Regions from separate parts of the Homo sapiens genome. Here region 2 is linked to region 1. Evidence: fine-mapped expression QTL. Tissue or cell type: whole blood. Region 1 holds a variant in brackets; the other region holds the start of a gene. All regions are shown on one strand. Distances are from middle to middle.

The links. PIP is the estimated chance that this variant, and not a neighbour inherited with it, causes the effect.
Region 2: it holds the start of PCTP, and the variant in region 1 is fine-mapped to the expression of PCTP in whole blood (TOPMed, PIP above 0.99).

The regions. Positions count from the first base shown.
Region 1 is chr17:55,894,756-55,897,444 of GRCh38, forward strand. No RefSeq gene overlaps it. Among named protein-coding and RNA genes, the nearest start is that of PCTP, 150 kb to the left of the region's middle. The variant T/A (reference allele first, on the strand shown) is at 1,327.
Region 2 is chr17:55,749,763-55,752,451 of GRCh38, forward strand. PCTP (phosphatidylcholine transfer protein) reads left to right here and starts at 1,289. Exons shown (of 6, transcript NM_021213.4): 1 at 1,289-1,482. The coding sequence starts at 1,342. RefSeq lists a silencer at 1,087-1,426.

The DNA of each region.
Region 1 (2,689 bases):
TATTCATTTCTATTGTGTATTCTTGGTGCCCTTCTTGACCATATTGCATGGGTCTATTTCGGGGTTTTCTAGTCTAATCTGTTAGCTGATGTGCCTGTTTTTATGCCAGTACGATACTTTTAGTAATTGTGCTAAAATCAAGCTAGGAAGCTCCCTCCCTTGGACCAGTATTTTTCCAGTGGGTCCCCAAGGTATTCTCAGTTTTTCCTTCTTTTTTTCTTCTTGTCATCTCTTCTTCTCCCATGGCAATCAAGGGGGAGAGTTATTACAGAATATAAGAAGATGAGTTGGATTCAAACGGACATGAGTGTTAATCCTTATTTTGCCATTTATTAACATTGAGACCTTGAAAAATTAATTTTTCTGAGGCTGGAAGAATAATGATAATATTGCCCTGCATTAGCTAGCTAAACTGCCATGGCAGAGACCAAAACAACAGTGAGTCAAACAAGATGGATATTTGTTTTGCTCTCTTCTAACAGTCCTGGGAGTGCAAGAGGCTCTGTTCCTTCCATCTTATTGCTCAACTGTCCTTTAGACAAGGTTTCTCAACTTCAGCATTATTCACATTTGGGGCCGGATAATTCTTCGCTGGGCAGTGGGGGCAGGAACGGATGTTGCCTTGTGTATTGTAGGATGTTTAGCAGCATCCCCGGTCCCTACTAACTAGATGCCACTAGCACTCTCTCCCTGGTTGTGACAATGAAAAAAAATGTCTCTGAACACTTTCAGTGTCTCCTGGAGCAACAAAACCACTCCCTGGTTGAGATCCACTGCCTAAGGATGTGGTCTTTGGTCACGTGATCTAAAGCTGGTTCACCAAGACAAGCTCTAGTTCATAGGCTAGAGGAGGGAGAAAAAGTGGAAGGCAAACAATTTGCTTTTAGGAGAGTTATGTAAAGGTTACACATATCAGTTATGTTCATAGTCTTTGTGCTAAAACTTGGTCATTTGGCAACAGTAAGCCACAAGGGAGGTCCAAATAAATTGTTGGTCTGCTAAAAATCAGGGAGCCTCTATTTCTAAAAGGTTTAGGGAAATATGAATAATGGGAGGAGGCATTTAGAAGCCTCATTACCTTTACAGAATTGTTATACAATTAAATATAATAATGTACCTACAGTACCTAGCATAGTTATATTGTAAATGCTTAGTAAATATTACCCTTATCTCTCTCCTGCTTCTCCATTCCCAAGCACTTGGGCCTATGTCTTTCACACTGAGATTTAGTCTTAAGTCATTCTGATACATAAATATTAATAAAAATGATTCTCTACAACCCTGTGTCTGGGCCAATGTTGGAACTACTCCCAATATATAGACTAC[T/A]CCCAATATATGTTTCTCTTTCAGGATTTTGTTCTCTTTTTCTTTTGTCCTCAGTAGCCTTGCCACCAACACCATCTCCCATGAGCACACATGCACAGGGACCCCTATGCGATGATCCTGGAGGTCTTACTCTGAAGTGAATGACATCTTGCTAGTGATGACTTTTTTTTTTAGATGGAGTCTCCCTCTATCACCCAGGACATAGTGCAGTGGTGCGATCTTGGCTCACTGCAACCTCCACCTCCTGGGTTCAAGCGATTCTTCTGCCTCAGCCTCCCAAGTAGCTGGGACTACAGGTACACACCACCACGCCTGGCTAATTTTTGTATTTTTAGTAGAGACAGGGTTTCACTATGTTGGCCAGGCTGGTCTTGAACACCTGACGTCAGCTGATCCTCCCACCTCAGCCTCCCAAACTGATTTAAATTCTGGCTCAAGAACTTCCTAGGGATGTCACTTTTTAGTTATTTGTATATGTGGTGACAACGTCTGAGCTCAATGTCCTCATCTGAAAAAAAATGGGGATAGTAATATTTGTTTTACAAAGTTGTCGTAAATGAATTGGAAAGTAGAATGTGCTAAGCCCCTATTTGCCTGGTCCTTTAAGTATTATTCCAAAAAATTATTTATAATACCCTATACATTCTGAAATAGTATCTCAATTTTCTAGAAAAGTAACTGTAACTAGGTAAGGCAAATTTGTTTGCCTAAAGTTACACGTGCACACAATATCAGGAGGAGAAATAGATGGGATTTGAACTCGGGTCTCTCTGATAACAAAATCAGTGCCCTTTACATTGACAAAGGTTTTCTTTCATGTCTTTCTCTAGCATAGATTACTCAAGAGGCTTTAAACTACTTCTGTCACTTAAAGTGGGAGCTAAAGGATGAGAACATCATAGAGGGGAACAACACATACTGGGGCCTATCAGAGTGTGAAGGGTGGGACGAGGTAGAAGATCAGGAAAAATAACTAATGCGTACTAGGCTTAACACCTGAGTGATGAAACAATGTGTACAACAAACCCCCGTGACACATGTTTACCTATGTAACAAATACACATCCTGCACATGTACCCCTGAACTTGAAATAAAAGTTAAAAAAAAACCCAAAAAACAAAAAACAAGATGCCCTGTGTGTGAACTTACAGAATATGAGACAATAGCTTCCCCAAGTGGGAGATTACAGAACAGAATGCACAGTCCTCTCTTTGCCTTGGAAAGAGTAATGGTGTGGAGAATGAATGGCTCGGGGAGTGGTCTTGGCCACTGATCTCCCCTTCCCCTGCCTGGCTCTTACCAAAACCACAATCAGGCAATCCCCGCAAGCTGAGCTTATCACTGGGATCCTGGCACTGTCAAA
Region 2 (2,689 bases), 140 kb before region 1:
TAAAATATGGATTTACAATACATAGAAAATTTACAAGGAGTTATAAAACAGTGGGAAAGTATGTCTAGCCTAAACTTTTGTGCATTTAGTCTAGGAAAATTTCACATCCCTCTTTCCACACCTATAAAGCCAAACAGAACCAGGACTGACTTGAGGAAAGCAATTATTTATCTCTGCTGTGTCTAACTAAGCAAGCTGCCAAATGTGATCATTTGCCTGATTGGAAAATCACATAAATTAAGACTTTGCCATCAACTTTCTTTCAAGTAAGGAAAGAAAAGCATTTCAATATAGTAATGCAAAACAAGTGGAAATTGTTATTGAACATTTACTTGGACGGGCACTGTGGAAAATTATTCCTTGTCCAACCACCTCCTCAGCTGTAACTGGTAGCACAATTCTTGACCCATTTTACAGATTAGGAAACATGAGTTTCCAGAGTTTATTGGCACTCACGTGGCTGTTACATCGTTTTGATGTTCAAACGACCTACTTTATTCAAAGTCAGGTAGTACAGTCTGCTGGTGGGAAATACAGTATTACTCAAGGGACTTCAAAGGAACAAGAAGATGTTTGAGTTGCACAGTGAGCTAAATTATGCAAGTTGCAGAAATCCTAGGTGGATAGTACGACACCTTTCAGATCAGTTTCTACCCTCAAGGGTGGCAACAACCTTGTAGATCCATTATGGATTAGGTTTCTAAACTGTTTTGGTGTTATGAACCCCTAGAGTCTTCTGGGGAATCCAATGGACCTCGTCTCAGAATAATGTTTTACAATGTATAGCAGAAAGAAGAGAAATTATATTGAAATACACTTCTGGCATTTGACCCCTTAGGATTTTTCCAGCATTTCTACTCTGCCCACCTCTCCTCTCATGTCTACCAAAGAGACTTTCTCTACTTTATTCAGAAAGGTAAATGAGAGACACTCAAACAGGTCTGTAGGTTATGGGAGTAGCAGGGAGTATGGGATAGGCTACTGAGGAGCTGTTTTTGAGGTGACATCACTGTCTCCCTTCCTTTTTCCCTTCCCTCTGGAAGCCTCCTTACTTCTCCAGCTCTTCCTTCCTTCCCCACATCAAGTCCAATTTTTCTCCTTTTACTTCTTGTCTATCCTCCTCACTCCTTGCTCAGCCCCGCCCGCTTTTCTAGGCCCGCCCCTCCAGGGCCCCACCCTCAGGCCGCTCCTCCAGTCTAGGCCCCGCCTTCTCCTCAGTTTCCTGCCAATGACGCTGGGGCAGCCGGGGCAGCCGGGGCAGCCCGGTCACCCCGCCCCCAGGCCCACACTAAGGGTGTCCGCGGCCTGCCCTCCAGGCGGAGGAGCCCGGACTGCGGAAGGATGGAGCTGGCCGCCGGAAGCTTCTCGGAGGAGCAGTTCTGGGAGGCCTGCGCCGAGCTCCAGCAGCCCGCTCTGGCCGGGGCCGACTGGCAGCTCCTAGTGGAGACCTCGGGCATCAGCATCTACCGGCTGCTGGACAAGGTAGCGGCCAACCCGCTGGAGGACCGCGGGGCCTAGAATGCGCCGGGGTCGACCTCCCCGCAGGGAGTGCGGGGCGGCAGTCGCGGAAGGGACAGGGGCGCGTCTTCTCCGGCTCAGGAAGGAGCTCCGCCCGGACCCTGTCTCAAGCTCTGGAGCTAGCGCAGGGGCGGTGCCTCCAAGTGACTGCCGTGCAGATCCAGGGGAGTTGGAAGGTCACAGGAGTTCAGCCTCAGGTCAGGCCCGACGGGGCATGTAGTTAGAAGTTAATGACAGTTGAAACGTGGGTCAGCTGGTTCCTAGGCCCGTGCACACGTCTGCAAGGGACGTTGATCCTCACTCTCCAATGCGTGTCAGTGGCATATGGGGGCTGGGGTGGGGGAGGGGCGGTATCTTAGGGCTTGGATATAGGAGGAAAAGAAACAGAACTTTTCAAGGACTGGATGTGCAGGGTGGTGTCAGGGGTTGCCGAGAAGGGCCCTACTGTTTTAGTGACTCGTTTCTTTTGGTTGTTGCCCCTTCCTTCCAAGTTGCTCTTAATAAGTTGAGTCCGAATCTTCAGGCAGGAGTAAAGATGTAGGAGGAATGGGATTGGTTGTTGAAGTCTTTGGAATCAGGTAGCCATCCAGGTGGAAGGCATTGCCCCTGAGGCCTGTCATCCAAGGCTTGTCATCAGTTGCTTTGTGTAATAGTCGCAGCATGGCAAGTAGGTTAAAAGTCGCCTGCAGGTAATGTGGGTGAAACTGAAGTTTCCTAATACAGGACCAGGATATTATAGTGTTAGAGTTAGGAGGATACCTCATGCTCACCTGGTTAAACCCCAGGTTTCATAGGTGAAAGCAACAGGCCTCAAGGGTGAAGTCACTCCTGAAATGGCCCAGATAAGTGAATAGCAGAGGTGGGATTGGAGGGTTCATGATCTTGTGAATGTCAAACATGTGGTTGCCTTTTTAGGCACTTGCATTTTTGTTTACATCAAATATAGTGTTTTTATATTTTAAAACAGAAAACAAACGTTTGCAATATTTAGAAGTTGCTCACCTGTTAAACAGGAATGAAAACTCTGCCTGTCTCATTGCAGGAATGAAAACTCTGCCTGTCTCATTGCAGGGTTGTTAGGGGGTTCAAATCCAATCTGTCAGATATGTGTGAAAATTTGATAGCTGTAAATAACTCTACAATGCACAGGACAGTGACCCCATACCTCTCC